Regions from separate parts of the Homo sapiens genome. Here regions 1 and 3 are each linked to region 2. Evidence: fine-mapped expression QTL. A gene starts in region 2. Each other region holds a variant in brackets. All regions are shown on one strand. Distances are between the middles of the regions.

Evidence for each region. PIP is the estimated chance that this variant, and not a neighbour inherited with it, causes the effect.
Region 1: its variant is fine-mapped to the expression of SLC18B1 in T cells (TOPMed, PIP 0.98).
Region 3: its variant is fine-mapped to the expression of SLC18B1 in fibroblasts (GTEx, PIP above 0.99).

The regions. Positions count from the first base shown.
Region 1 is chr6:132,473,500-132,483,874 of GRCh38, forward strand. It overlaps STX7 (syntaxin 7), which reads right to left. Exons shown (of 10, transcript NM_003569.3): 3 at 2,094-2,163. Among named protein-coding and RNA genes, the nearest start is that of STX7, 34 kb to the right of the region's middle. The variant G/A (reference allele first, on the strand shown) is at 4,966.
Region 2 is chr6:132,793,795-132,804,169 of GRCh38, forward strand. SLC18B1 (solute carrier family 18 member B1) reads right to left here and starts at 4,843. Exons shown (of 14, transcript NM_052831.3): 1 at 4,620-4,843; 2 at 3,188-3,327. The coding sequence starts at 4,662. RefSeq lists an enhancer at 3,129-3,629 and a silencer at 4,861-4,910.
Region 3 is chr6:132,757,916-132,768,290 of GRCh38, forward strand. It overlaps a transcript of VNN2 not described here and the pseudogene RBM11P1. Among named protein-coding and RNA genes, the nearest start is that of VNN2, 5.2 kb to the left of the region's middle. RefSeq lists enhancers at 2,336-2,525, 5,455-5,554, 10,291-10,375. The variant G/C (reference allele first, on the strand shown) is at 4,737.

The DNA.
Region 1 (10,375 bases), 320 kb before region 2:
TTTTTTTTTATTATTGTGTTGTTTTTTTTTTTTTCTTGAATATTTTTGACCTGCAGTTGGTTGAATCTGGGGATATATAATCTATGGATACAGAGTGCTGACTACATATCCATATTTTATCTAGCTATCTTATAAATTGAAAAGATTTCCAACTTAAAAACATGACACTAAAAAAAAGCTCATATTAATTGTGATGTTTTACAAATCACAACATCAGTACCTCTTATATATTTCATCTCATTTTAAATATGGTCTGGTCACACTTGGGGTCCTTTAAAATAATGAGATATTGTATAAGAATATGCTTAAGAATAGGGATCTGTATTTGACTGACAAAGGGTAATTAAAATCTATTTCTATCTCTATTTACCAAATACCCTATCTTTAATGCATTTTTGTAAATCTCTGGAAATCATAATATAGTCAAAGTTTTAAAAAGAAGACCTTAGGCTGGACATGGTGGCTCATGCCTGTAATCACAGCACTCTGGGAGGGTGAGGTGGGTGGACTGTCTGAGCCCAGAATTGAAGACCAGTGCCGGCAACATGGCAAAACACCATCTCTACAAAAAATACAAAAATTAGCCAGGCATGGTGGATGTGCCTGTATTCCCAGCTACACAGTAGGCTGAGGTGGGAGAATCGATTGAGCCTAGGAGGTCCAGGCTGCAGTGAACCGTGATAATGTCACTGCACTCCAGCCTGGGTGACAGCATGAGATCCTGTCTCAAAAAAAAAAAAAAAAAAAAAAAATCCTTAGTGACTACGGATATATATTCAGAATCTTCATTATTAACTCTATCAAAATATTAGAACTTTTATGAATTATGTACTTCTATTCCATTTTACTTTAGTTTAATGAATTGTGGTTTATTATTTAGATTTGGAGCATTTTTACCATTCTGACACTTACCCACTGTGGAAAAATAAAATATAAATTAGAGATAATTGTAAGTCCTTCAAATTGTACTTCCTAAAAATATGAATTCCTATTACCTATCTTTTAATATCGTCCTCTTTGCAGTTTTCCCTCTATAGTTAATGTTGTTTAGAAGTATTGCTTACTAGATATATGTGACTTGAAATTTACAGCTGTAACAGTACTGAAATAAAATTTAAGAGTTAAGTTCTAAATGACATTGGGTAACTCGTTAAACCCGTAAGAGACATGAACAAAATGGAAACAGTTCTTTTGGTCTATTTCTCTTACTCTAATTCTGTAAGGTTTAAATGATAAAATATGTAAAAATACTCTGTAAAATCCACAACATACCACAGACAAAATATTATCACTATGACTGCTGGTCTTCTAACAGCATATTAATTTACTGGAATATGTACTATATAATTCATTATAACTTTTTTTTAAACGGAAGCTAATGCTCTCTGAAATTCAAGGATGTAGGTATAAACTTGTGGGGAGACAGCTCACGTAGCTGGTTATGTATTGGATCTAAACCAAATAAAACTCTGGTGACTGCGGGGATTTTTAGCTATGGAAAGTAAATCACATAAATTGAGATACTAGAGTATAATTTTTCAACAGCTGTCAAAAACAACCTACCTAAAAACTGTAAGAAATGCAACTAAAGAAATTCTGCTTTGATAGGGTAAGCCTATCAAGGAATTTTTTTTTTTTTTTTAAGACAGAGTCTTGCTCAGTCGCCCAGGCTGAAGTGCAGTGGTGTGATCTCGGCTCACTGCAACCTCCGCCACCCGGGTTCAAGAGATTCACCTGCCTCAGGCTCCTGAGTAGCTAGGACTACAGAAGCTCGCCACCACGCCTGGCTAATTTTTTTATTTTCAGTAGAGACGGGGTTTCACCATATTGGCCAGGTTGGTCTCGAACTCCTGAACTTGTGATCTGCCCACCTCAGTCTTCCAGATCTTTAATATAAAAACACCTGCCTACTCCAGACAGGGAAAAATCTACACAAAAGCTTGGTACAAATGTATGGATAAGGTAGCAGAAAAACTCCATTGTTTTTCCATTTTTTCTTCCAGTAAACATAATATACTACATACTGTAAAAGCAACAGAATAATAGCAATAGAGTTTTTTCTTTCTCTTTTATTTATTTAACTAGATACTTACAACTGTTGCCTCAATTCAGGTGAATCTTGAGGTGTTCCAAGTTGATTCAGAGTTCTTTGTATTTCCACAGCTATTATAATAGAAAATTCATGTATTAATTGTCACAAAAGTTAAGGTAACAGAAAGAGTTAAAAATTAATATGTACAAGCAATTGGGCAGTTGAAAAGAGACAGAAAAACAAAGATGAAAATAGAAAATATTAACTGGAAAAAAGAATAACTAAATGGTTTACTTAAATCTAATTAGTAACAAAAATTTTCAAGAGGAAATTGTGTGAGAATGTTAACTTGTGAAAATGCACTTATGACCCAAAAATACTATCTTCTTCCTTATCCCATCAGGATATTATTAAGTAAATACAAGGGCACACAGACTTTAACACTACTAGCATAAAAATTGTGAGGAAATAAGTAACAATTACATATTTCATTAGAATATAATATAAATAAGTTATTGTTAATAAATGAGAGGAATAGAATTACAAAAAATCATTTTTCAATTATCCATGTAATAACTGATTTCAGCAAGGTCATCAAAAAATGCTAAAATCACAGGACATTCATACAACTTAAATTACCACCACACAGATGACATTAATTACAAAAGATATAACTTTATCATATATAAATCTGTTGTCTGAAAACAAATGACCAAATTTAGCAGTGAGAATGGAAAAAACTGACATTATGAACCTTGTGGCATGCTGCAGCGAGAAAGCCACAATATGATCTGAGGATTTTTCTTGCCAAAATATTTAACATGAATCTAATCACAAAAAGAAATTAGACCAGTCTAGACTGTGGGACAATCTACGAGATAACTTGCCTGGGCATTTAAAGACGTCAATGTCACAAAAGGGAAAAAAAAAGTTGACAAAGACAGAGGTGCTTTCTAAATTAAGGAATTAAAATACCCAAAAGACACTGTATGATTTTTGACTGGATTCTGAATCAGGAAAAAAGCAAGCACTATAAAGAAAATCATAGGGACAACTGGAGAAATTTGAATACAGAAAGTAAAAAACACATTAAACAAAAGTTGAAAAATGCCCACAACTGGCAAATCCAGGTGAAAGGTTCATTGTACTATATACTTATATATATATTTTGTGAGGTTTAGAAAAGATTTTAAAATAAAAAGTCCAGGGCTTAAAAGTCATGTTAAACTCACAATCCGGAAGTCTATGACTATTGCAATTTTTTTAAAAAAGGCTCTACACAAAAGGGGAGGACCTACAGTTTTATGTATGTGGGGACATAAATAAAATGTCATGGTACATAAATAAAACGTCAAGTAGAAATAAGCTGAAAATCCAAAGAACTCTTAACAATCTAACCCCCTCATTCTTTTTATTTAAATGAGTGGTTTACTTATATAGCTTAAATGCTTTAAAACTATTCATTATTTACATGCTCAAGGGAATGATAAAGTATTACAAAATGCAGGATAATTTTGGTCACCGCGAATGATGTAATAAATACTGCTTTTAAGTGAAAGCTGAAAAACAGAAACACTAGAGAAGAATCAAAGCATATAGCAACTCTTAGCATTTGGCTAATTTAATAGGAATTTATTTTTGCTTTTTGGGGGTTGATTTTTCCTTTCATAAGACAAACAAATTTTGTTTGCCGTGTTTAACTTATGGCTGCTTATAATTAGCTATATATTCCCTCTCAACCTCAACAGATTTTCTTGAACTGCCTTATAGGGGCTTTATTTTCTTAAGCGTATTGATAATACAAACTGTAGTATGGGCATCGATAGACTATTGGCAGGTATTTATCTCAACTCTAAAGTGTTATTGTTCTTTAGGAAAAAATCATAGCAAGTGAGAAAAAATAAATTATTTAATAAATGACACCAGGAAAACTGACTAACCATTTGGGCAGGGGAGAAAGAACCCTACCTCCCAGCATATAGCAAAATACATTTTTAATAAACCATTAATTTAAATAGTAAAATTGAAAATATTAAACTGCTCTAAGAAATATAAATGTTTTTATTATATGATCTTATACATGATCTTGGAGTAAGAGATATAAAATATTAGCTAAGCATGACACAAAACTAAAATCCACAGAGGAAAATATTGACAAATTTGACTACATAAAATAACTTGGTTAAATGTTATACAAAAAATGTGTACATATATCACAAGTATATATGTAAGTGTGTGTTCATATACACACAGGAGACAGTAACTGCAGGTTATGATGAGGAAAGAGGTTAAACTACAATGGTAATTATTTTTGGTAACAGAACAACAGCCCAGTAAAAAATGGACAAAGGTTATAATCTTGCAATTTACAAAAGGCAAATGTGTACATAACAAAACTTCAACTTCACTGATAATTAAACTTTTATGTTTCTGATTGGTAAAAATTATGAAAAGCAGTTGAGAATATAATTACAATCAAAGGCCTTAAAAACAAAAGGTAAAGACTACATAATATATAAGAAAGAGGGAGCAATAGTCAATAACTATAAATAATTTAGAAAATGTCAGACAATCCAGTAGAAAAATGGGCCAAGACACGTGTATATCTATATAACAAACATGCACGTTCTGTACATGTATCCCAGAACTTAAAGTATAATAAAAAAAAAGAAAAATGGGCCAAGAATAGGAACTTTAATATTCATGAATAAACTGAATAGCAAAAAAAGGACCGAAATGCATATCAATTTTGCAAAGTACAAACAAGTACACCACATGAATGCTATATAAAATTACTCAGCCAATTAAAGAATTGAGTAGAAATGGATTCTGACAGGCCCAATGGGAGCCTAGTTCCACCATGTGGTAATTTCCGGTTTCTGAACAGATATACTGAGCAACCCCCAGTTCTCACTCATACTCCCTGAGTAAGG[G/A]CTCTTATGGAAGGAAGAAATCATTGGAAGCCCCTGGGGACCCACTCTAATAAAAAAATAAAACCAAGGGCATTATCTATTCCCTGGGAATTACTCAGAAATGCCACCATCAAGGACAGAAAGAGCAGGGAGTGGACATGCCTCTCATTCCCATTTAACCGGCCTATCTGGAGAATGCAGAAGGCTAATGCTCATGATAACTAGCAAAAGCTTATTCAGGTGGTGACTCCAACTGCACTGTTCCTCAAAATGTGATGGATTTACTACAACAGAGCATCACAATCTCTAGCAACCTGTATATACCTGCTTATATGGCAAATACTTTTTGCTCTACCCTAAAGGACAGAGAACATGAGAAAGGATTTGCTATCAATGGGATGGGACATCAGCGAGCCTTCACAGGCTTATCTCACGGTTATGCACACTGTCTATCTTTGTACTACAATTTCGTTGTCAAGGATACGGATCATCTCCTCCTACAGGACACTACATTAGTCCAATACACTGGTTACGTCTGCTTTTAGGACCAGAAAAGCAGGAGGCAACATGTACTCTTAGATGCCTGCAAAGCATAAGTAAGCCAGCAGGTAGAAAATAAATCCATGAAAATACAGGGCAGTGTTTCCTCAGTGAAAAATCTTGGTGAATTAATCTGTAGATAACTGGCATACTTCTGCAAAGTGCTTTTCTTTGTAGCCTCAAGTACAAATGAGAAACAGACTTTTTATGCTGCTTCCACCCTTTACTGAATGACCCAAAGGTTACCAGCTTTAGCTTCAACTCCCAAAAAGAAAAGACCATCCAGCGAGTTCAAGTGGTGGTATAAGCAGATCTACAACTTGGCTTTAATGACCCAGCTGATGCAATGGTACATCAAGCCTGTGCAATTTCAGGGCACCGAAGAAAACTAGTAGCAAATCCCAATAGGAAAAACACAGGGGTCCCTTAGAATGTTGGAGCAAAACCTTCCTTTTGAGACTTGTTCTGGCCTTGCTACTGAGCCCTGGATAGAATAAACAATGGTACAAGGTAACCAAGTGACTCTAGCTGTTCACCATGAATTGTATCTTGTTGGTACAGCCTTTCTACATTTTGCTCTACGTATGTCAGTCAGCCTATCCCTCACCCCAACTCCTGAAGCACTTGTTCAGTGAAATAATAAACTAGCAATGGCTGTCAGAACAAAAGCCACATATAGACTCAACAATATGGATTTCCTCTTACTCAGACTGACATGACCATGGGTATTGCCGTACACCAATTTGCAGCAATAGCAATCTCATGTTATACTCTATTAAATCATTTTTGTTTGATTTTTTGTATTAATTTTTTCATTCATCCTTTGGACTTCCCAGATGCACATCCATACGCTCTACAGAGATGATTTTACCCATTTTATTTTCTATGGCTAATTATCTTTACAAACACTTTCAATAACGTGCTAATTTAAAAATAAAAAGTAAACTAGTGATGTGCCGTTGTTGAGGGTTGACCCAACTAGCTGCTCCTTCCATCTTGGAGGAGGCAGAATTTTATATTCACTTCAATGGTATTACTCTGGGTTCTGTTATGCATCCTCTAAGCACCCACTGTGCCCCCTGTGGCCCGTCCCCACTCCCCCGACCCCATGCTTCTACCAGACTCCTAATCCACCTATTAGTCACAATCAAGGTGTTCCACACACCGATGCTTCTGCTCAAGAAATTACAGAGAAAAAAAATTAACGGTGTTCCAAGGACAATGGGATTCACTGCTCTGCCATGTATTCTGTTATCTAGAAGCTGCTGGACTTCTAGAATGTTTACGGCCTACTGAGACTCAATCCTGGCACCACCTGGGAGACAAGCATCTTGGGAAACTGAAGGATCCTTATGGTCTCAAAGAACCACCACTCCATGGTGCTGTTTCACCTACAGCCAGAAAGAAACTTGGATTTGGGAAGTAACAGGTCGAAGTAAAGTCCAATATTTCACGATTACACCTAATTATCCATTTGTACAATTTTTTCCATCTCTCAAGGTGACTTAGAGACAACATCCAAGGGAGGAAAACAATCACGTTTTCAAGACTACAACTGGTCATTTAGGGCCAAGGTAGTATGTTGATTGAGGTAATTATTAAGCGGAATTTGGGGTACGCTCATACACAAGTAAAAGGGAGATGAACTGGAGGGGGCCTGATAATACTGCCATCTTCACTCATAAAAGTGAGTACCACATAGCCTGTGAGCAGGAGCAACAAGGACCCAGGGCTGAAAATCTGGGTTATCCCAAACAGCAGAGGTGCTGAAAGAAGGCAAGAGGAAAGTGGAATGGTTATTATAACAGGAAAATAGTAATACAAACTGCAGCCTGTGATCAGTTGTAGAGTGGTAACTTAGCACCTGCCAGTATTCTTTTTCTTGCTCTGCAATGTATATATTTAGATATATTAACTGTTCGTCTCCTTCCCTATTTCCTCCACTGTTATATATAGAATGTACCATTTGTGGTTACTCTGAGACACTGTTCCACAGGCTAAGGAATACTGCTGTTCAGTTTTGCTGAAAGAGGAGGAGCACACAGGAAATCACCCCCTAAATTTGGCATTGGCTACAGGAACTGAATAGACCTCAGTTTTATCCCTTCTGTGGAAATGGGAAAGGAGTTCTCGTTGCATGAGGGATAGCAGCAGTGTGTCACGCAGGAGCTTTTGTTTTTAAGCTTAGGTATGAAAAAAGGAGGCGTGTTCACTGTAGAAAACAAAAGGGATAAATTATAGTGAAATTTATTTTGGGCCACCTAATACCCAAAACTACTATTAGATTGGGATCTTTTTGGTTATAATATGACCACTGAGAAGTAGCACCACAGAGCCAATCTTTGGAGGGGGAAAAAAACTGGTTGCTAAAGCAACAAAACTGTTTTAAGATTCTTTGAACATTGCTTACCTTCATTATCATACAGGTGATTAATAATGAAAGTATTAGTCACTATCACTAACAATCTAGTTATAATCAAAAGCTACATTTACTCTGTGCTTTTGGTTTTGTAGATTTAGGTTTTATAGATACTGAAATTTCTTAAAAATCAAAGGCTCTGGCTAACAACCTCCTTGTCACTCTGAAACAATTTTTTAAGATAATACAATGTCTCATAAAATGAAGCCTCTCAGAAAACAACCATTATGTTATTGCCTAATAGAATGCATTTAACTAATGAGAGCTTCTCATGAACAGAAATGGAAGACAAGGCCCCCTACACTTATGCAGCATACAAACTAGAAAAGGACAAAAAAACCCCAAAAGTACAAACACCATATAAACTCAAAGAGGGTGCAGCAGCAACAAATGCTATAACAATGTTTCAAACAATGACCTATAATATGTGTGTTCTATTGGAGGACAATCCAAAAAGCTGTAATGAAGGTGGCATTTGTAATGGTTTGAAGGGTAAGAAATAGGACATTTCAGTTTGGAGATTCAAACCTCTAATATCATACTCAGACCTACACTGAAATGATCAGAATACCTATTAGTCACCCTAACTAGAAGGCAAATTTCTTGAAGGCAAGGCCTAAGTTTTATTCATTTTGGTTTTTCCAGAATTTATCATATTGTTGACCCTCAATGAATAGTTTTATGAGTGAACCATAAAAAGAATACTGGGAAGATCAAAACGTACGTAAGAAATAATATATATTTCTAAAACATACAGCATAAATAAATGGAGAGTTAAGAAAGGTAGTTATGCCCATTTATTATTCATTCATTGATTCACTCGACAAACATTTACTGGGCATCTGCTACGTACCAGGCACAGCGAGAGGGCTTCTGAACGTGAACATTAATTTGGTTGCATTCCTTTAAATTGAGCAGGTCTACACTTGAGGATCAATTAAAGGCATCATCTGATCAGGTGATAAAGGGCTTATAGGAACATAAATCTGAAACTACTAAATCAAATTTGGAAAAAATATTATACGGTATTAGTTCAATCCTATTTTATAAACAAAGAAGTTGAGAACCAGACAGAATAACTTGTTCCAAAAACTATAGCTATTTAGTACAAGAGCTAGGGTTAGAATGTAGATTTCTTGGTTTTCAAAAAACTTTTTTCAATGTGCTAAAAGGACTGAAAGTAAAAGATGTTAAAACACATTATTTCATAATCCAGGTGTGTGACAGTTGACAAAGCAAACAAAGAAAAAATAAGTGTGTCTAGATTGAAGAAGTAATTTGAAGGAGTTGAATTGAGATGTTAGATGTTTCCAGCAGTGCTCAAAGTAAGTTTAGGTCTGGCAGTGGATCACAAGGATCCTTCTTCCCAGCTGAAAGTGATCAAGGAAGAAACGCCTGCTCTTTCTCTGGGTTTTATGAACTGCCAAGATTCCACAGACTTGATTTTATATACTACTAGCATTAGCCTCCTACACCAGGGTCAACAAATTATGGCCCGTAGAGCCTGAAACCTGGTTTTGTACAGACTTCCAAGCTAAGAACTGTTGCTACAGTTTTAAAGGGTTAACAAAAAAGAAAAAAAAAAAGAAAATGAAAGAAAGTCTAAAAGAATCTGCCCTTTACAGGGAAAGTTGGCCAGTCTTTGTCCTCAGTTATTAAAAATTACTAAAACCTTGTATTTAAAAACTCAACTTGGCATGTTATTTGAATGTACTGTCATCCTTCACTATCCCTAGAGGATTGGTTCCATGCCTCCCTCCATCCACCTCCCAAAGACAACAAAATCTGCAGATGCTCAAGTTTCTAATATAAAATGGCATAGTATTTGCATATAACCTATGCACATCCTCCTGGAAATCACCTCTACACAACTTACAATACCTAATATATAATAAATGCTATGTAAATTGTTATAGTGTACTGTGTTTTATTTTTAAAATTTTTCTGAATATTTTTGTTCCATGGTTAGTTGAATCCATGCAGAATCCATGGAAAAGGAGGGCCTACTGCAGTCACTGCATTAAGTCTATCTAGTAAAATATTTAACAATGTCACAAAATTTCCATTGAACATGCATGTACACTGAGTTGAAGTTCTTTGATTCTCAGAATATGCTATTCACCCATCATAGGTGCTGGCTTGAGTACCTCATTTTCATCTGCTGCTCTTATACTAATTTAGAAACAAAACACTTTTTCATTGTTTTGGATGAGCATTTTTATAGCATATTTGCTGCAAAAATATTGTTAGCACTCTATCATGTTATTACTCTCTGGTTTTTGGCCATCTCCTAAGTTCTTCCCCTTCTAGAAGGTATGGATAGTAGGATATGTGGTTCACAGGATCTTCTGCGACACCCCAATTGACCATGTTCAAAAATGCTTGAGAAAAATAAGCTTAGAGAAAGGGAGATAAGAGGTTTCTAGTCAGATGACAAGCAGTATGGTGATCTGGAAAAATAAATAATCCTCC
Region 2 (10,375 bases):
CATGAACTGTGAACTGAAATACTCAGCCTATAGTCCTCGGTAAGACTTCTGAATAAAATGAACTTTAATTCTTTAAAAGCTTGACTTTTTTCTTTGGTCATCATTTCCTATAAGCACAAAACTCAATCAAAAACTTAAAAAGCACACACCCACAGCATGGTTTTCCTTTGTCCCTATTCACTTAGAGGAAACTAACATTAGTTGCACTCACTGAGTTCCAGCTGAGCTAGGAAATGCCCTTCTCACTGGTTGATTCACTCACTCCAATTCTTCTCCATCTCAATTCCACAGGCTCTTATTATTTTTTTTTTAATTTTTTTTTTTTTTGAGATGGAGTCTCACTCTGTTGCCCAGGCTAGAGTGCAGTGGGGCGATCTCGGCTCACTGCAACCTCCACCTCCTGGGTTCAAGCAATTCTCCTGTCTCAGCCTCCTGAGTAGCTGGGACTACAGTCACGTGCCACCATGCCTGGCTAATTTTTGTATTTTTAGTACAGACAGGGTTTCACCATGTTGGCCAGGCTGGTCTCAAACTCCTGACCTCAGGTGATCCTCCCACCTCAGCCTCCCAAAGTGCTGGGATTACAGGCGTGAGCCACCATGCCTGGCATTATTATTGTTATTATTATTATTTAAAAATCCCAAGTCTGGCCAGACTGCTCTTTCTTGCTCAAACACCTCTGATGACTGCCCACTGACTAAGTCCTTGACAAGTGCCCTTCCTTTCTATCTTAGGCCTGCCTCCTCAGATCCACTGTCTCCTATTAGACCTCACTTCACCCCAGGCTCAAGCCACATCAAGAAGCTGTCTGTTGTTCCCCAGGAACATGCCATTCACTCTGCTCTTCCTGTGACTATACCTAGAACACCTCCATCTCTGTTGTTCACCATAAGAATTAACACTTCTTAGGGCCCACCTTAGGCCAGGTGCGGTGGCTCACACCTGTAATCCCAGCATTTGAGAGGCCTGGCCAACATGGTGGACGGATTGCTTGAGCTCAGGAGCTCAACATCAGCCTGGGCAACATGGTGAAACCCCATCTCTACTAAAAATAGAAAAAAATAGCTAGGCGTGGTGGCACATGCCTGTGCCCCAGCTCCTCAGGGGGCTGAGGCGAAAGGATCTCTTGAGCCTGGGAAGTTGAGGCAGCAGTGAACTCTGATCATGCCACTGTACTTTCAGCCTCGATGACAGAGTGAAACCCTGTCTCAAAAAAAAAGCCCCAACTTAGATTTAGCCTGAAAGTTCCTTTCAGTAACGCCCTTTCTTCTGCTATCCACACTCCATGTATGGCAGAATTAACCATTCTTCTTTCTAGGCTCTCATAACATTAGTATGGATAGAGGGAAGCCAGAAGAAAATGATTTAAAAAAAGAAAAAAAAAAACAGTCTTATAACATTCTGGACATCCTTTTCTTAAGGGATATCCAAATTATTGGAACCTTTTTTTTCCCATATTTTTTCACTCCCAAAGGGCAGACAAGAGAAAGCCATTTCCCTGATTTTTTTATACTACCCTAACACATCCCATGCTTAGCCTGCTCTAGAGAAGGGACTCATTAAACCTCTAGTTAATAGAACTGAATTGGGCAAGTCACAACTTCTGAGACCGTTTCTTCATTTGCAACATGCTGAGATTCTCAAGATTCTGTATGAGGTTGTTGCGGGGATTAAATGGATAAATAAGGGGTAATGTGTACTAGAAGCCAGAGAGCACTGTATGGGTACATGGCAATATTGTTCCTTTAGCAGAGAAGCCACTTTATCTTCTTTTGTAACACACAGAACGAAGGACTACATGTTTAAAAGGCAGTTGGAGGACTAACAAGCTTCCACTGCACTGTGAGCCAAGGATTTGGCAAAAAGCACAAAATAAAACACATGGATATGTTGTCTACACTCCAAGCCAGTCATATTCATTTCATACTATATCCTATTGACGTCTAGAATCCAGTTGGACTTTCTAGGGATTATTATCTTTGAATCTGTGTCATTAGCTATAAATCTTAACACCATATAAAAGGCTATGCCTAGAAGGAATAGGCCCTATTAATCAGAATTCCTCCCTTGCATAAACATTGGCGCTAGAGTCCATAAGAAATTAAAGTCAAAAGAGGGAATATGGAGCGGGGCCGGGGCTGGGCGTGGTGGCTCACGCCTGTTATCCCAGCACTTTGGGAGGCCAAGGTAAGCAGATCACCTGAGGTCAGGAGATCGAAGCCAGACTGCCCAACATGGCAAAAACCTGTCTCTACTAAAAATACAAAAATTCGGCCGGGCACGGTGACTCACGCCTGTAATCCCAGCACTTCGGGAGGCGGAGGCGGGCAGATCATGAGGTCAGGAGATGGAGACCATCCTGGCTAACACGGTGAAACCCCGTCTCTACTAAAACAATACAAAAAAAAAAATTAGCTGGGCGTAGTGGCGGGTACCTGTAGTCCCAGCTACTTGGGAGGCTGAGGCAGGAGAATGGCGTGAACTCAGGAGGCGGAGCTTGCAGTGAGCCGAGATCGCGCCACTGCACTCCAGCCTGGGCGAGAGTGCGAGACTCCATCTCAAAAAAAAAAAAAAAAAAAAAATTACCCGGACGTGGTGGTAGGCGCCTGTAATCCCAGCTACTCGGGAGGCTGAGGCAGGAGAATCAATTGAACCCGGGAGGCAGAGGTTGCAGTGAGCCAAGATCACAACATTGCACTCCAGCCTGGGCAACAAGAGCGAAACCCTGTCTCGAAAGGAAAAAAAAAAAAAAAAAAAAAAGGAAGGGGGGTCGGGAATCAAAACGTCCTAATTCTAAAATGTGAATAAAACCTCGAGAAAATAGTTACTGTCTTAACACAGACCTATTGCAGTAACATTTGAATCTCAGTTATTCAGTGCACTCCTTTGTTTCAGTTGCAGAAACCAAATAAAGATTAATCAGACTACATGGTAAGAAAAGTAATTCTCAGAAGATCAACTACTTTTAGGTGAATTACCTCCCAAGAAGATGTTCTTTTTGACTGGATTTTTTTTCCTGGTATCAGGCATTCTATAAGAAGTATTCTATTGGCTGGAGTTCTATACACCATCTGTCCTATATGCAGATTTTTACATTTTATATACTATAAAATAAAATAATTCAAAAGGCTTTTAAAAAACAAACAAACAAAAAAACAGAGGTCCTAAGGATTTAAAAATGTCTTACCTCTTTGGGGAAAAACGGTCCAAGTATAGAATAGCACATCATGGAACCTAAGTTCACCGAAGCTGCCGATATCAGTACAAAAACCTGTTCTCTCGAAAGCCACCCGGGGGTCTCTCCTGCACTTCCTGCAGGATCATCACCTTGAATGCAAACATGCAGCAATTAGGCATATAATTGAGACTACTGATTAAAGTACACAAATGTGATTTCTGTGCACATATGTTGCACTCTGAAGATATCATTTGCTAAGCTTAGGGCTATTTTGAATATAGCACATTTGATCAAATGGAACACAATCCTTGTACATTACTGCCGTTTTGAAAACGTACTGCTTTCGGCTGGGCACGGTGGCTCACGCCTGTAATCCCAGAACTTTGGGAGGCCGAGGCAGGCGGATCACGAGGTCAGGAGATCGAGACCATCCTGGCTAACACGGTGAAACCCCGTCTCTACTAAAAATACAAAAAATTAGCCGGGCGTGGTGGCGGGCCCCTGTATCCCAGCTACTCGGGAGGCTGAGGCAGGAGAATGGCGTGAACCCGGGAGGCGGAGCTTGCAGTGAGCCAAGATCGCACCACTGCACTCCAGCCTGGGCTACAGAGAGAGACTCCGTCTCAAAAAAGCAAAACAAAACAAACAAACAAAAACAAAAACAAAAACAAAAAACAAAGATTTCTAAGGCAGTATTGAAGTCAAATGAAGTGTAAGTAGGAGAAAACAAGCTAAATCATTCAGCTGGTGAATTAATATTTACAGCGGTATGCTTCTGGATAGACAAGTCCCACAAATTCATAAATAAATACTTTTTTTTTACCCTAATTACTGGTCTTTTACATCAGTTAATTTAACACTTATTTCCAGGGCTAAATTGTCATTTAAAAACACGAAATCAATTACTGAGTTCCAAATATCCAAGCAAATCCATCAGCCATTTATAAATTAAATTGTTTTTAGGAAAAACTTAAGAGAAATACATTTGCTTTGCTCTATTTGTCAGAGGTTGCCATTGCAGTCCAGAAGGAAAAAAAAAATCAGTGCAACATGAGGAAGTCTTACGAATCTTTGTAAAATGTTTGTAGTAGATGAGAAAGGGAAATGAAAGTTAAAAAGAAAGGCAACAACAATGGGTACTTGAAAGGTAACGTTTTACATTTGCCTAATGGCATACTTATTTGAATGCATTAAACACACAGTACTTAAAAAGCAGAGGTATAGGTTAGAAAGTCATTAGAAACCGTGACACATATCCAATCCTGGAACTTTACCCCGTCCAGAGAGAAAAGAAACGCTGGCCCGAACCCCACGATCAGGCCCCAGCCTTTTCCAATCTCTCGGAAACAGATCAAGCTATAAGCAATTCAATCGTTGCTAAAGAGACACGCCGGAAGCCGCCGCTGGTCTCCGGGCTCCCGGCCACGCAATTCATGGTCACCTCCTGGTGCGCGTGGTCCCTCCAGGTCACCCAGCGCCTCCATCCCCGGTGCGTGGACTCCGGCGCCCCAGCTCCCGGCTTCAAGCCACGTCCTTGGACTCGACCTCCAAGGAGCCACTGGCACTCTGGCGGGCGGCCGCTGCTCAGCTGGAACCTGGCATCCCCGACTCCCTGCAGGCAGCGATCCGCCCGGCCCGGAGCTCCCCAAAGCCTTCCAGGACTCTGGGTCCCCGGGAGGAGGCCGGGGGCGGGGCAGGGGTGGAGCAAGGCTCCTTTTTTTTTTGTTTTGCGCCCCCCCCCCGCCTCATTATCTTAATCCACCACCTCAGCTGCTATATCATGGTGTCCTTTTTCATTCTGTGACAGAGAGTGAAAAAAGATGAGTCTATATTCCATACAGCTGTACCCCCCTCAATCTTAAAATAAGTTCAATTTATTCCTACGAAACGAAAGAAAGGAAGCTTATGTAGACACAGAAAAGGCAGGGAGTACCTCAACTGAAAGACACAAAAGTGAATTAGAAAATTAGGTTATACAGGAACTTTGAAAGAGTGAATTATTTTTCACAGTGGGTAAATGCGGTAGTGTTCGTAATTACTGAAGCCAGACACTATTGAACCGGAAATGAATTAACCTATGTGAAGCACCTGGAGTCGAAAAATATTTGCAAGAATACTAATGAATATCGAGGAAGCATGGCGAAGTGGCTAGGAGTGCGACCTCTGGAGGCAGGTGCCAGGGATTCAAGCCAGGGCACTTGCTGGCAGTGTGTAACTTTGGATGACAAGGTCAGTTTCTCTACCTGTACAACTGAGATTATAATGTTTATCTCGTAGGGCGGCTGTGAGCATTGGCGATAAAGTGTGTTAGTAGTTAGCACATGAACATGATGGCTGCTACCTTACTCTCACACTCACAGTTTTCTTGCATAAAAAATAGGTTTCACTTATTTTCACCGTATTTACTATTTGGGAAGTGTTAAAGCTCGAGGACTGGCTGGACACGGTGGCTCATGCCTGTAATCCCAGCAGTTTGGGAGGCCGAGGTGGGCAGCTCACCTGAGGTCAGGAGTTCTAGACCAGCCCGGCCAACATGGTGAAACCCTGTCTCTACTATAAAAATACAAAAAAATCAGCCAGGCGTGGTGGCAGGCACCTGTAATCCCAGCTACTAGGGAGGCTGAGGCAGGAGAATCGTTTGAACCTGGGAGGCGGAGGTTACAGTGAGCCAAGATCCAAAAGAATTGTGTGAGGGTAGCTTTATCGACTGAGAATCTGCCTCAGATCCACTGTACAAGGTCAGTTCCAGTACACAGTATGGCTGATAGTAAGTTTGTAATTACTGTGCCACCTCATTCCAGCCTGGGTGAAAAAGCGAAACTCTGTCTCAAATAAATAAATAAAGTTTAAGGACTGGGAAATTCTTGTTTTGAAGCCAAAGCAAAACAAAAGACTGAGTTACCACTTTGTGCCAGGCATTATGAATTTAAAGAGGAATGAGCCCCATCCAGACTCTGCCCTCAAGTAGCACACCTTCTAGCAGATGAAATTCACACTAATTAATAATCTACTATAATGCAATCGGTTGTATACAAACATATTGGAAGAACCATTTACTTTGGCAAATGGGTCCTGGATGACTTCCTGAGGAAGTGATGTTACCTTGGTTCTTGAAGGTTATGTAAAAACTCCCCAGTGAGGGCCGGGCGCGGTGGCTCACGCCTGTAATCCCAGCACTTTGGGAGGCCGAGGTGGGCGGGTCACGAGGTCAGAAGTTCGAGACCTGCCTGACCAACACGGTGAAACCCCGTCTCTACAAAAATACAAAAATTAGCTGGGCATGATGGCACCCAGCTACTCAGGAGACTGAGGCAGGAGAATCGCTTGAACCTGGGACTCGGAGGTTGCAGTGAGCAGAGATCATGCCATTGCACTCCAGCCTGGGCAACCGAGCGAGACTCCATCTCAAAAAAAAAAAAAAAAAAATTCCCCAGTGGGCAAGTTGTAAAGGAGAACCTAGAGAACCACTCTGAACAGAAAGTTCCACTCTAAGCCAGGTGCTGTGGCTCACGCCTGTAATCCTAGCACTTTGGGAGGCCGAGGCAGGCAAATCACCTGAGGTCGAGAGTTTGAGACCAGGCTGACCAACATGGAGAAACCCTGTCTCTACTAAAAATACAAAATTAGCTGGGCATGGTGGCGCATGCCTGTAGTCCCAGCTACTCGGGAAGCTGAGGCAGGAGAATCGCTTGAACCTAGGAGGCAGAGGTTGTGGTGAGCCAAGACAGCACCATTGTGCTCCAGCCTGGGCAACAAGAGTGAAACTCCATCTCAAAAAAAAAAAAAAAAAAAAAAAAAGAAAAGAAAAGAAAGTTCCAATCTAGCAAAGTTTCCCTAAAGTAGCCTTATGAAATCTTTATGATCTAACCCCTGACAGCTTCTCCAATCTCATTTAACTCTATGCTTTCTCTTCAATCTAACATCAATCTGTAGAGGGAAATTTTCTTGAATGATTTCTTTGATGATTACATTTCCTCTTTTATTTTCTTTCTGGACTGCACTTTATGTGAATGTTGGGTCACCCAAACTGGTCCTTTTACTTATTTCTCTTTTTCTTCTCTCTTTTATTTTATTTTATTTTTTTTAGACAGGGTCTCACTCTGTTTCCCAAGCTACCATGACATATAATGGCTCACTGCAACCTCAAATTCCTGAGCTCAACTGATCCTCCCACCTCAGCCTCCCGAGTAGGTGGGACTATAGGCCTGTGCCACCACACCTGGCTAGTTATTATTTTTTCTTTTTTTTTCCTCCATGTTATAGGAAGTATCCCTAACTGTATCTTGCCATCTGAATTTTTGCCAACTGAATCTTGCCAACTGTATCTTGCCAATTGAATGTTTCATTTCTGTTGCCATCTATTTCCTTGTATCTCCATTCTCATTCCTCTCCCCATTTGCAATAATTCTTGCATGTTTAATGCAAATCTTGTTCTTTATGTTCTCAAAAAAATCTATGTTCTTATGTGTCCATCTACTTTTAATTTACATAAAGTCTATTCATATCCCTATCCTCCGCTCCTCTTGTAATCTCTACCTCTCATTCTCCCTTCAGATAATCAGTTTTATAATCAAATATATTATTGTGTTAGTTTTCTGGGGCTGCTGTACAAATCAACACAAATTTGATAGCTTAAAACAAGGTCCTCAAAGCCAGAAGTTCAACATCAGTTTCACTGAGCCAAAATCAAGGTGTCAGCAGGATCATGTTCCCTCTAGAAGCTCTAGGGAAGAGTCTGTTTCTTGCCCCTTGAAGCTTCTAGTGACTATTGGCATTTTGTGCCACATCACTGTAGTCTCTGTTTCTGTGATCACTGTGCCTCTTCTTTTCTGTGTGTAATCTTCGTTTGCCAGTCTCTTGTAAGGATATTTTGAATGAATTTAGGGCCCACCTGGATAATCCAGGATGACCTCTTCATCTCAAGTTCTCCAATTTAGTCACATCTGCACAGACCCTTTTTTTCATATAAGGTAACATTTACAGGTTCCAGGGATTAGGATGTGGACGTATCTTTGGAATCCATTATCAGCCTACCACAATTATCTATTCATAGTTTGATATGCTCATTTAGACATTCATACACATATGGAATATTTGTTTCTTTACAAACTAAAATGGAGTAATATGGTCTTTGTTTAAATGCCACCTCCTCAGAGAAATTCATTCTTTTTTATTATTTATTTATTTAATAATAGAGATGAGGTTTCACCATGTTGCCCAGGCTGGTGTCAATCTCCTGGACTCAAGCAATCCATCTGCCCTGGTTCCCCAAAGTGCTGGGATTACTGCCGTAAGCCACCATACCTGGCCAAGAAATTCATTCATTTTTTTTTTTTTTTTTTTTTTTGAGATGGAGTTTCACTCTTGTTGCCCAGGCTGGAGCACAATAGTGCTATCTTGGCTCACCACAACCTCCACCTCCTAGGTTCAAGCGATTCTCTTGCCTCAGCTTCCTGAGTAGCTGGGACTACAGGCATGCGCCACCATGCCCAGTTAATTTTGTATTTTTAGTAGAGACAGGGTTTCTCCATGTTGGTCAGCCTGGTCTCAAACTCTCAACCTCAGGTGATCCTCCCGCCTCGGCCTCCCAAAGTGCTGGGATTACAGGCGTGATCCACCGCGCCCGGCTAAGAAGTTCATTCTTATGCCCTTATCCAAATACAGCCCTAGTCCTCCTTTGTCCTTTCACCTTTCTATTTTTCTTCCTGGCATTTCTATCAGTCAGAGTTCCCTGTTGCTAATAAAAAACAAAGCAACGTTGGCTAATTTAAGCAGAAAATGAATTCATCATTGATTATTAGGTAACACATAGTATCATCAGGAGGATCATGCATACCACTTAGAGGCTAAGTGCCTAAAGTCACACCACCTAAGCGGTCCAGTATGCATGGCACTGCAACCCTGCTGGACGTACATCTCCAGCACATGCTGCCAATACCACTGGAGCCAGGTATGAGACACTGTAATTAGAACATCATCCCCACTCCTCAAGAATGCTGCCACTCTCACCAGAAGAGATTTTAGGTGGTGCTAGCTTCTTCCACTCACTTGCTTCCATTGCATATCAAGACCCAATGTGTTTGAAGTCAGGCAGTAAAAAGTGTCCAAGTACGTTCTTCTTTTTCAAGAGTGGTTTGAATATTTTAGTTACTTTGACTTTCTAGAGAAATATCACAATTAGCTCTCATATTCTCCAAACAACCTGGTGGAATTCTTACTGGTATTTTTTTTACTCCATATATCAATTTGGAGAGAACTGATATTGAATCACTATTAAGCTTTTAATCCATGAACATAGTATATCTCTCCAATTATATAGATATTTCTTTCATAACATTTTCACATTTTTCACCGTGTAGGTATTATATGCCTCATGTTAAATTTATTCCTAAATACCTTAGTTTTAGAAGCTACTAAAATTGATATTTTTATGTTTAAATTTCCAACAATTTGCTGATTATATATAAAGGTAAATGAACTTTTATATTAATCTGGTATCCTGCAATCTTGCTAAATTTCCTCATTAGTTCTAGTCATTGTTGTATAGATTCCTTTAGATTTTCTACATAAACAATTATGCCATCTGCGAATAGAGTTTTACTTCTTCCTTTCTGAAATGTATGCTTTTGTTTCTTTCACTTATTTTATTGCACTGACTAGGACGCCCAGTAAAATGGTGAATAAATGTGGTGAGAATGGAGAGCCTCACTTTGTTCCCAATCTTACAAGAAAAACACTTGGTCTTCCATTATAAAGTATGAGGTTAGCTGTAGGTTTTTCACATGTGCCTTTCAGAAGATTAAGGATGCTACCTTCTATTCCCAATGTGCTGAGAAATTTTAAAATGAATTTGTGTTAAATTTTATCAAATAGTACTTCTGCGTCTATTGTACATGGTTTTTTCTTTATTCTGTTAATTTAATAAATTACACTGATCAGTGGTCTAATGCTAATTGTCTAATGTTAACTTTGGATTCTTGAGATAAATCTTGCTTGGTCAAGATGTATTCTCTTTTCTTATATATTGCTGGATCAATTTGCTAATATTTTGTTAGAGGTTTTTTTTGTCTATGTTTATGAGTAATGTTGATCTGTAATTTCTTTTTATTTTCTTTTGTCAGGCTTTGGTAGTAAGTAATTCTGCACTCATAAAACAAGTCGAAAACTTCCCCTCCTCTGGTATTAACATGTATTAAT
Region 3 (10,375 bases), 36 kb before region 2:
TAACATTCATGTAGTATTTACAGAGGGGAGAATGTTTGCATAACATGTGGCTGCCAGTTACTGGCCTTTTACTTTATCATCATTTTTCTTCTTCTTCTTCTTCTTCTTCTTCTTCTTCTTCTTCTTTTTTTTTTTTTTTTTTTTTTTTGAGGCGGAGTTTGCTCTGTCACCCAGGCTGGAATGCAGTGGCGCAAGCTCAGCTCACTACAACTTCCACCTCCCAGGTTCAAGCGATTGTCCTTCTTCAGTCTCTGAAACAGCTAGGACTACAGGTGCGCGCCACCACGTCCAGCTAATTTTTGTATTTTTAGTAGAGATGGGGTTTCACAATATTGGCCAGGCTGGTCTCAAACTCCTGATCTTGTGATCCATCCACCTCAGCCTCTCAAAGTGCTGGGATTACAGGCGTGAGCCACTGCACTTGGCCTACTTTATAATCTTAAGAACGCAATATATCTGACCACTTTTAAAGAAAGAAAAGTTGCAGTCCATTTAAGACAATCAGAAAGTATTACAGGGATTGAACAGCATGTACTATTAGTACTAAGATTTAATATTGAATTTCCAAAAGACACCCGAATTCAAATATAGAACAATTCCAGCTTTTGTTAATAGAAACTCATAACTAACTCTCGTGTAAAAAAATCACATCCCAACAAATATCTCATTTATTAAATTTAAAAATTGACAACAATTTTTTTGGTTCTGTTGAGTCACTTACATTGTGTTTATTTTTAGACGGGGGGGAAAATATTAAATACTTACTACTAAGAAAATGTAACACAGGACAATATTGATAACAAAATTTACCCAAATCTACACTCTGACTTACTTATTGCTATTAAGGACTGAAAACATGTGCTCCAGAAAAGCAGGATTTTGTGTCTGGTTTGTTCACTGCTGTATAGTTAGTGCCTACAGCAACAATACCCCGAGGCACCTAGGCCAGAGGAGGAATCTCAGCTCAGGGGCCCCAGGCCTCAGGATACTCCGCTTCTTTCCTTCTTTCTCTCTTTCACCCTTCCCTCCCCATCCTCCCCCTACTTCTCCTTCTCCTCCTACTCCTTCTCCTCCTTCTTTTTCCTCCCTCCCCACCCCCTGCTTTGGAGGAAGATGCCAGGGAAGGGGAAGAGTCCAGGATTGGTGATAAAGATCATCTGTGTTGTAATAAGGAGAAGATGTAACTTACATTTTTGTTAGCAGCAAATAACAACAATGAGTTTAAAAACAATGCTAACAGGCCAGGTGCAGTGGCTCATGCCTGTAATCCTAGCACTTTGGGAGGCCGAGGCAGGCAGATCACCTGAGGTCAGGAGTTCAAGACCAGCCTGGCCAACATAGTGGAACCCCCCATCTCTACCAAAAACACAAAAAGTAGCTGGTCGTGGTGGTGGGCGCCTGTAATCCCAGCTACTCGGGAGGCTGAGGCAGGAGAATCGCTGGAACCCAGGAGGCAGAGGCTGCAGTGAGCTGAGATCACACCATTGCGCTCCAGGCTGGGCGACAGAGCGAAACTCCGTCTCAAAAAAAAAAAAAAAAAAAAAAACAATAATAACAACAAATACAGGATGTGATCTCAGATGCCTTCTTAGGACATTCATATTCTCCCTTCCCCAGGCCCAATCCTGCCAAATAAAGGATTTGTTTTATTTTTATCCAGCCCTTTGGTAAAAGTCACGGAAATGCTTTTAGACAGCATAGAAGAGTAGGTACGATTAAACAAAGTTTATTCTGTGCTTTCCTTCTTACTGAGATAAATGTTTTGTTAAGAATGGGGCCTAGGGGCTATAAATAAGATCTGCTCATATTTTCTGCTTTGAATAGAAGTTTCTATTAAAGGAATAACTTTTCTTATCTCTATAGAGCAGAAAACTAAAAATAATTCAGGAAAAATGGTCAAGCCCTTTTGTGGAAAATGTAAAGGGATAGATATTTTTATGAATTTTTAGCAGATTGTATAATAGACTGTTAGTATATAACCATACTATCTAGTGTATAATTAGTAAATTAGCATAGGTGATTGGTATATAATAGATTATGAGTGCTGTTAGAGTTTAGAAATCATGTAACCCAAATGCCCACTTATTACAGGATAGGAATCTGAGGCATAGAGAGCTAGAGCGACAGAGCAGGATGTTCGCTTCTCATTCCTGATTCCAGAGTCTTTCCTTTATACCTAAAACAGCACATGTGTCTGTGCTCTCTTTTAATGTCTGCAACTGAGTGTCTGAACACTCGTGTCTTTTGGGGTTTTTTTGTTTTTTGTTTTTTTGTTTTGAGACAGAGTCTTGCTCTATTGCTCAGGCTGGAGTGCAGTGGTATGATCATGGCTCACTTCAGCCTCCACCTCCCAGGCTCAAGTGATCCTTCCACCTCAGCCTCGCTAGTAGCTGGAACACCAGGTACGCACCAACATGTCAGGCTAATTTTTGTTATTTTTTGTAGAGAGGAAGTTTCACCATGTTGCCCAGGCTTGTTTCAAACTCCCGAGCTCAAGCAATCCACCCACCTTGGCTTCTGAAAGTGCTGAGATTATAGGTGTCAGTCACTGCAGCCAGTCATTCATGTCTTTTAAAGAACCCAATTCAAAATGATCACCTTAAGAAGACCATAGGCAAATTTGCTAAGTGCTAATGAAATTTCTGATGCAGTTGATGCCTAATAAAAACAATTAAGCTCTTCCATCTCCATAAGTACAATTTGGGCCATGACCTACCTTCATTGATCTAGTATCACCAATTAGTAATACTTAATTAACTCTTTTGCTTTTAAGTAGTCAGGTAAGCTGATGAGGAGGAGTTAACAGTTTTATAATTTTGGCAGTAGAAGTGGGGACAATCATATCTGTTATTGTGTTCCCAAATCTGGATGTTTTTCTCTGTCCTTGGCTGTAAAAGATAGAAATGATGTTGATCAGAGTTTTGGATTTTTTGTTTGGCTAACAGGGAAAGGGAAAATCACTTCTGATATAAAATCAAGATGACTAAATTCCCTCCTTTGTTTTTTTATTTGAAGCATCTAAAAATTGTCTCATTGAAACTGAGAATTTGAGTAACAAAGGTAATTGCAAAAAAGAATTAGAAGTTAGTAAATGAAGGAGCAATTTAAATATAGGAAAATCCCTGAGATGTGAAGAAAATATTTGCTGTAGAGGTCATTGATATTGTTTTAAATCTTCAGAAGTAAAAAACCAAATTCAGGACATACAGTTTCAATAGTTGACTTTTCATAAAGATGATTGATCAGGTAAAGATTAAAATTTTTAGTTTAACTGAATTATAAAATAAAGTAAGGTTATTTTGCCACAGGGAACATTGATTAATTGTAATTCGTTGCTAAAAGAGCCTACTTCCTAATTTGCCATTTTGGGATTAATGAACTTAGCTAAAGGGGTAAAAAGTTAAAATCAATTAAAAATTATTTGGTCAAAGAGTCACCATAAAAAAAAAAAAAACAGTATTGGGGTGGGCGCAGTGACTCATGGTTGTAATCCCTGCACTTTGGGAGGCCGAGGCGGGCGAATTATTTGAGGTCAGGAGTTCGAGCCCAGCCTGGCCGACATAGTGAAAGCCAGTCTCTACTAAAAATACAAAAACTAGCTGGGCATGGTGGCAGACGCCTGTAATCCCAGCTACTCAGGAGGCTGAGGCGGGAGAATTGCTTGAACCCAGGAGGAGGAGGTTGCAGTGAGCCGAGATAGCACCATTGCACTCCAGCCTGCGTGACAGAGTGAGACTCTGTCTCAAAAATAAAAAACAAGCAAATAAACGAAAAACAGTAATAGCTCAAATATTTGTTTCTAATTGTGAATCTGATCATCTGTTAGAATAATGTTCAATTGGACTAGGTTTTAGGTCTTTAATTTTAAAAACCTCATTTTTTTCCCACTTTCTCAAGAGTAAGCATAGGGGTGTAGTTTCTGCTTTGCACCACTTCTTTGGACCTCTATTTCTCATCTAAAAGTTTAGGTAATCATACCTGCTCTATCTCCTAAAGATATGTGAAAGTCCTCTGTAAGACTACAACGCAGATGACAATAATTAACAAAAGTGAGTGACTATTTAGTAATATAATATCCTGACTGCTTAATATTATTTCATTGTTAGGCCCACAGAACTACTGTTGTTCAATTCAAATTCTAGTCTATTTGGATGACCGTGCTGAAGAACTGCTGGAATGAAATGGGGTTGACAGGGTACCTGGGCATCAACTCCTGATTCGTGCTAAACCCAGCGTGGTAGAAAAACTGCAGTGGGGTAGCAAAGGTGAAACAAGAAAACCAAGGAACTCAACCCCAGGAAGGAGAGGAGCTGCTCCAGGCTCTGACACTGGCTACTGGACTTCCTGTTCTGTCCCTTCTCCTGAATGCAAAATGACAAGTGAACTGAGAAACAAAGAATGGGAAATATCATGTATTATTATCAATGACATTCTCACAGGCAGCAAGGGTGACACGTCAAAATAAGAATAAGAAGCAACAATAGGCAGAAAAGCCAGGCTCCAGTGTTAAAACTGTTCCTCTTAATACTGTATACCAAAAAAGTACAATACTGTATCCAAAAAAAGTACTTAATGGCAAAGAAAAACGTTTCTGTCTCTACACCATTGGAGTATTACATATGGCTTTAGTGAGACTGAGTCAGGCCCTGTAAAAGGCAAGGTTGCCTTGAAAAGAACCAGCTTGAACTTTAACCATCTTTTGGGGCCAGGTCTCATTCAGATGAGGTAATCTTCCA[G/C]CTTTAGAGTTGGATGGGTGTTCAATGCTTCAGATAGCTAATGAACACAGCTGAAACCAGAGCAAATCTGAGAAGGTAATGATATATCACAGCCTTGGATTCTCTGAAAGCACTGCTAGATGGAAATGCTTGTGCAACATGAAATTGCCAATCATCACTGTTTTTGACCTAGCAAAAGTAATTTCACATGGTTCAACCAACATGTCTGTTTTCCTGTCTCAGAAACTTAGGGTTGAAGTTGCAGAAGTCCCTTTGAGTTAGTAGCATCCTCCCCTACTTTCCGACAGCTCCTGCTTCCTTAAAATAAAATATTAACAATATTAATCTCATAGGTCCACCCACTATGCCAGTCTATTAACCCTGCCAAAAGTTTCTTGCATTCACCAGCCGGTCCTTTTAAAAAATTAAAAATTCTCTTGACTGAATTAAAAGCTTTTGGTAAAGTCGGGATGACTGTCACCACAGAAATAAATCCACAGGAACTGGATCCAAGTCACTCGTTGATTTATGTAGGCAGTTGGAGAGACATGCGTTTGAAAGGGTATGGTAAGAAAATATCATGGAAATCGCAGACTTAAAAAAAAAAAAGATAGATTAAAAATAGAAAAGTTTATGTCTTATTGATCAATATGAGAATGTCACAGCAATCCACCAATAATGCCACTTGTTTATTTTCAGTGAGCAAGGAAGCAAAGAAAAAATAATGTTTGCAGCCCAAGGTAACTACTTACAGCTTTAGTCAAGGGGGAGCCTTCCACTCCTCTGGATCTCAGCTGCTTTCCTTTCCAAGGCCTGTGCTCCTCCAGTCACCCCTGGTGACTTCCTGTTTTGATTTCACTTTCTGGGTGGGCCGTACCCTTTGAGATGACAGACAGGAGTCCCAGCAGCTGCTGGTTCAAGGATGCTGCATCTTCAGTCAGACACCAGGAGAAAGAGTGTCTATTTTATTCTAGCCTGGCAATTCTGATTCCTGAGCTTTTCTTTCAAGGAGTTGTATGGGCCAGATGACACAGGCGAGGAGCATTGACACAATTTCTACTGAACCAAGCTCAGCAGAGGAACCACAGCAATAGAATCAGGAGATTCTCTAGCCTACAAAGCCTAAGTCGACTCTCATATTCATGTCATAGTCTTTCTCTTTAGCACATTATTCTTTTACTGTAAGACAGATCCCACTCCAGACTGTCCTTCAAATTAGAGAGAACTAAATTGTGTATGGTCCTGCATCTAGTTATGGAGAGCTTTTTTCTCACTGTAAGTTATAAGGGTCATGGTGGTATCTAATAATAATTAACATGGACATGGACTCTGGGGCCAGAATGCCTGGGATTGAGCCACTTCCTAGCTATGTGACTATGAGCAAGTTTTGTGCCCTCTCTGTGCCTCAGTTTCCTCTATCTGCACAATGGTGATACGTGCTGAATAATTTTTGCTATTATTACTATTGCTTCATTCCTACAAGATGGAGGCCCTATTACAAGAGCCATGCCCAAGGCAGCTTTTACCCAGGGTTTGGTGACATAACCACCTGTCCTTGGTTACTGTCTTGTTAAAAGAATGTCAATGTGTCTACTTCTTTATGTTTGCATTGTTCTGTCTGTCTCCACAAAGTCTTTCAAGTTTCCTTTCTTCCAGGTCAACCTGATCTGAATGGTTTCTCCTAAAATTATGAACTTAAATTCTGTTTCTACTTGCTAATCTTGATGGCATTCCCTCCATTTGTACCACAGATTCTCTTTCTGATAAAAAGCTTTCACTCCACCTATTTCATGCACCATTCTATTTTTTAAAAAACATGCTAAACAACCTGCTGTGTAACTGGATTACTCACACATTGCTGTTGGGAATGTAGGATGGTACAGCCACTCTAGAAAACAGCTTGGCAGCTCTCTGAAAAGTGAATCATGGCTCTACTCCTTTCCCTCTCTGGGTGGCAGCCAGGCATGGAGGCAGGGCAGGATCATAGCACCTCCTTTACCCTGCTTATCCTTCCTCTGGGGAAGGCTGACAGGACAGGAATTTAGAGGCTCCAGTAGGGGAAGAAATTCTTTATGAGCTGTTTCTTCAGTTTCTTGTAGGCTAAAACATTAACCACAGTGACTACATGCAAAAACAGAAAAATGGAAGTCTGGCATTTGTCTGCATTTTTTAAACACCTTAAAATGTGAGTCGTATGCCATAGTTCTACTGAATGGAGTTTGTTTATATGGAAAGATCAATTCATGCACAATATCAATTGGAAATTCTCACTCTTCTGAATCATCTCACCAAAGTTTTCAGTGCTGTGTTATGATAAATTCCTACAGCTATATGAATGAAGAAGCTGTGGGCAGATCTTAAGATAAATTAAGATAATTTAAGATGTTAAAGATAAATTTAATAAATTTATTATTAAGACAAATTCTTAATTCTCACAGCTATATGAATGAAGAATCTGTGGGCAGATCCTCCTTTCCCATGCAGTTCTTTCCAATTAATAATGTTGCTTTACTGCAATAATACTGTTTTTCCAGAAGATGCAGTAGCAAGCATACGATCCAATGCCATAGCTGTCTTACTGCATGAGATGATTGCCTACTTCCTAATTCACATCCCTGTCTCCCTCACTAAATCGTGTTCCAGAACTACAGGCTGGACCCAGCTTACTAACAACCAAGACACGAACCACCAAGCCATTCGCATTTTTATCAGATAACTAAAACGAAAGAGACAAAAGCCGACCAATAAACATGGTGATAGAACAGAAAACAATAGAAGAAATAATCATAGCCAAAAGTTCTGAAAATATAGGGAGAAGAAAAGGTATTAGTACTATTCTCAGATGAAAGATTTATCTACACTGGCTTTAATTCTCTTAAAAGAAAAAAAAACCTACCTGTATTTATGCAATAACTGATTTCATGGCTGTCATTTTTGAAATATACAATAATGTTACTTGATTGATTCGGTATTCAATTTTTGTCTTGACTGACAAAAACAAATGATATAATATACTGCTTTTTGTGTCTGGCATGCTATTGTTGACCTATCATCAACATGAAATACACTCTGAATTGTTTTAGTACTGATGATAAAATTGCACTGAGCTACAAGTCAAAATTTGTTATGACATCATGCTTTCCTAGGTGGTCCCTTGTAATACTCAACTATAAGTAAGCTGGGATTAGAAGTCCAGCTGTAGGTTTTCTGAAAGAAACTACTGCAAATATTTAGGAGTTGCAAGCTGCTCTTAATGAAGATTGGCTATGCAGAATTTAGTTTCCTTTGTTAATACTTTAAATAACATTTTAGCTTCTCCATGTAAATATGTTGTGTCTGAGCCTCCCCTCCTGTGGGTTTGTTTCATAAAACGGGGTCATGTGACAGTGACACCAAAGAAATGGTGAGTATCATGGGACTACCCTGTGGGTAATTTCCTTCTGATATGAATGTGTAGAGATACTTCTCAATTATTAATTGCACTTAATGAAAGTTGATTGGCTATATAAGAATTTATTATCCACATCTTTTCCAGCTAGGTTAGAGAGGGTATCTGTGACGTATTTAAATCTTGATCATTAAACAAATAAGTAAATAGGATATTTCTTATTTATTTATTTATTTATTTATTTATTTATTTTGAGACAGAGTCTTGCTCTGTCACCCAGGCTGGAGTGTAGTGGCGTGATCTCAACTCACTGGAACCTCCGTCTCCCAGGTTCAAGCGATTCTCCTGCCTCAGCCTCCTGAGTAGCTGGCATTACCATGCCCGGCTAATTTTTGTATTTTTTTGTAGAGATGGAGTTTCACCATGTTTGCCAGGCTGGTCCTGAACTCCTGACTTCAGGTGATCCGCCCACCTCGGCCTCCCAAAGTGCTGGGATTATAGGCATGAGCCACCATGGCTGACCAGATATTTCATTAATGCGTGATATTTAATATTTATTGTCAAAATCAAGTTTCTTATCTAAAATAAATGAGTTAGTTGAAAACAAACTAATCATGCAATTATCACGCAACTCAGCAGTTGTATTGCTGGGCATTTATTCCAGAGAAGTGAAGTCTTATGCTTCATATCCCACCCTCTACCCTCGCCCCTGGCAAAAACAAACAAACAAACAAACAAAAAACCTGTTTCTGAAAGTTCATAGCTGCTTTATTTGTAACAAATAAAGTAGTATTCCATTGTGTCTTAAAGCCACCCAATGGAATACTACTCAGCAATTTAAAGAACTGAACTATTGATACATGCAACAATGCCAATAGAACTCAAGGGCATTATGCTGACTGAAAAAAGCCAATCCAAAAAGTTTCATACAATACGATTTCATTTATACGTTTCTTGAAATGACCAGATGATAGAAATGGAGAAGAGATTAGTGGCTGCCAGAAGTGAAGATGGGAGGGAAGTGGGTGTAGCTACAAAAAGACAACGTGAAGAATGTGGCGATGGGAATGTTCTGTATCCTGGTTGTGCTATTGTACTATAGTTCTGCAAGATGTTATCATTGGTGAAAACCAGGGAAAGAATACTCATGATCTTTTTCTATTATTTCTTACAACTGCATGTGAATTAACAATTATCTCAAAATTTTTAAAGTTTAATTTTTAAAAATGATCTGTGATTTGTATTTAACCTTTTTAGTTTTCCTTTGGATTGATTTATGTATCATATTATAATGTATAGGTTGCAATATGATCTTAACATAAAAGATTCCTTTTATTACTAACATATTCCACATTCAGTTATATAGAATATTCTCATTATTAAAAAGGTTCTTTTAAGCTGCTCAGCCTTGTTACATTTAGAAGACTATAAATATATAAAAATACAAACACATACACAGAGATTTCCTTTGATAGTTTTGACCTACCTTTTGGTTTTCTTGTTCAAAGTGTTCTTTCCTCTGTCTTTTCTCATATTTTTTAAACTTTTCTGTGACTTTTTTTTTTTTTTTTTTTTTTGAGACGGAGTCTTGCTCTGTCACCAGGGTGGAGTGCAGTGGCGCAATTTCGGCTCACTGCAACCTCCTTCTCCCGGGTTCAAGCAATTCTCCTGCCTAAGCCTCCCAAGTAGCTGGGACTATAGGCGCACACCACCATGCCCAGCTAACTTTTGTATTTTTAGTAGAGATGGAGTTTCACCAAGATGGTCTTGATCTCTTGGCCTCGTGATCCATCCACCTCAGCCTCCCAAAGTACTGGGGTTACAGGCGTGAGCCACTGCTCCCGGCCCACTTATCTTAATACTTGCAAAATTTCAAAATGAGAAAGGAGTAAATTTGGTTTTGTACATAGCATCTTTAAATACACTGCTATCCAAGGGAAGTATTGAGAGCCGTGTGTTGGGAATGGGGATGAAGGAAGTTCTCTCCCCAGAGAGCCTCGAATCCTTGCGTTGACTTTGAATTCTCAACAATCAACTGTGCTGGTAACAGAATAGGCTGGCCCAGATAGTGGGTAGGAAGGTGCAAGCTGCAGACTCATGCTTTAATAGTGGCCCCAAGTGACAGTGGCAGGGACTGCAGGCACTCAGCCGCATCCAAGACCACCGGGCTGAGGAAGGGCGGCTGTCCTTGCGTGGGTGGACATGAAGGTCAAAAAAGTCCTGGAGGGGGCCAGGATGACTTAAGGCAATCAAGGCCCAGATCTGCATGCCA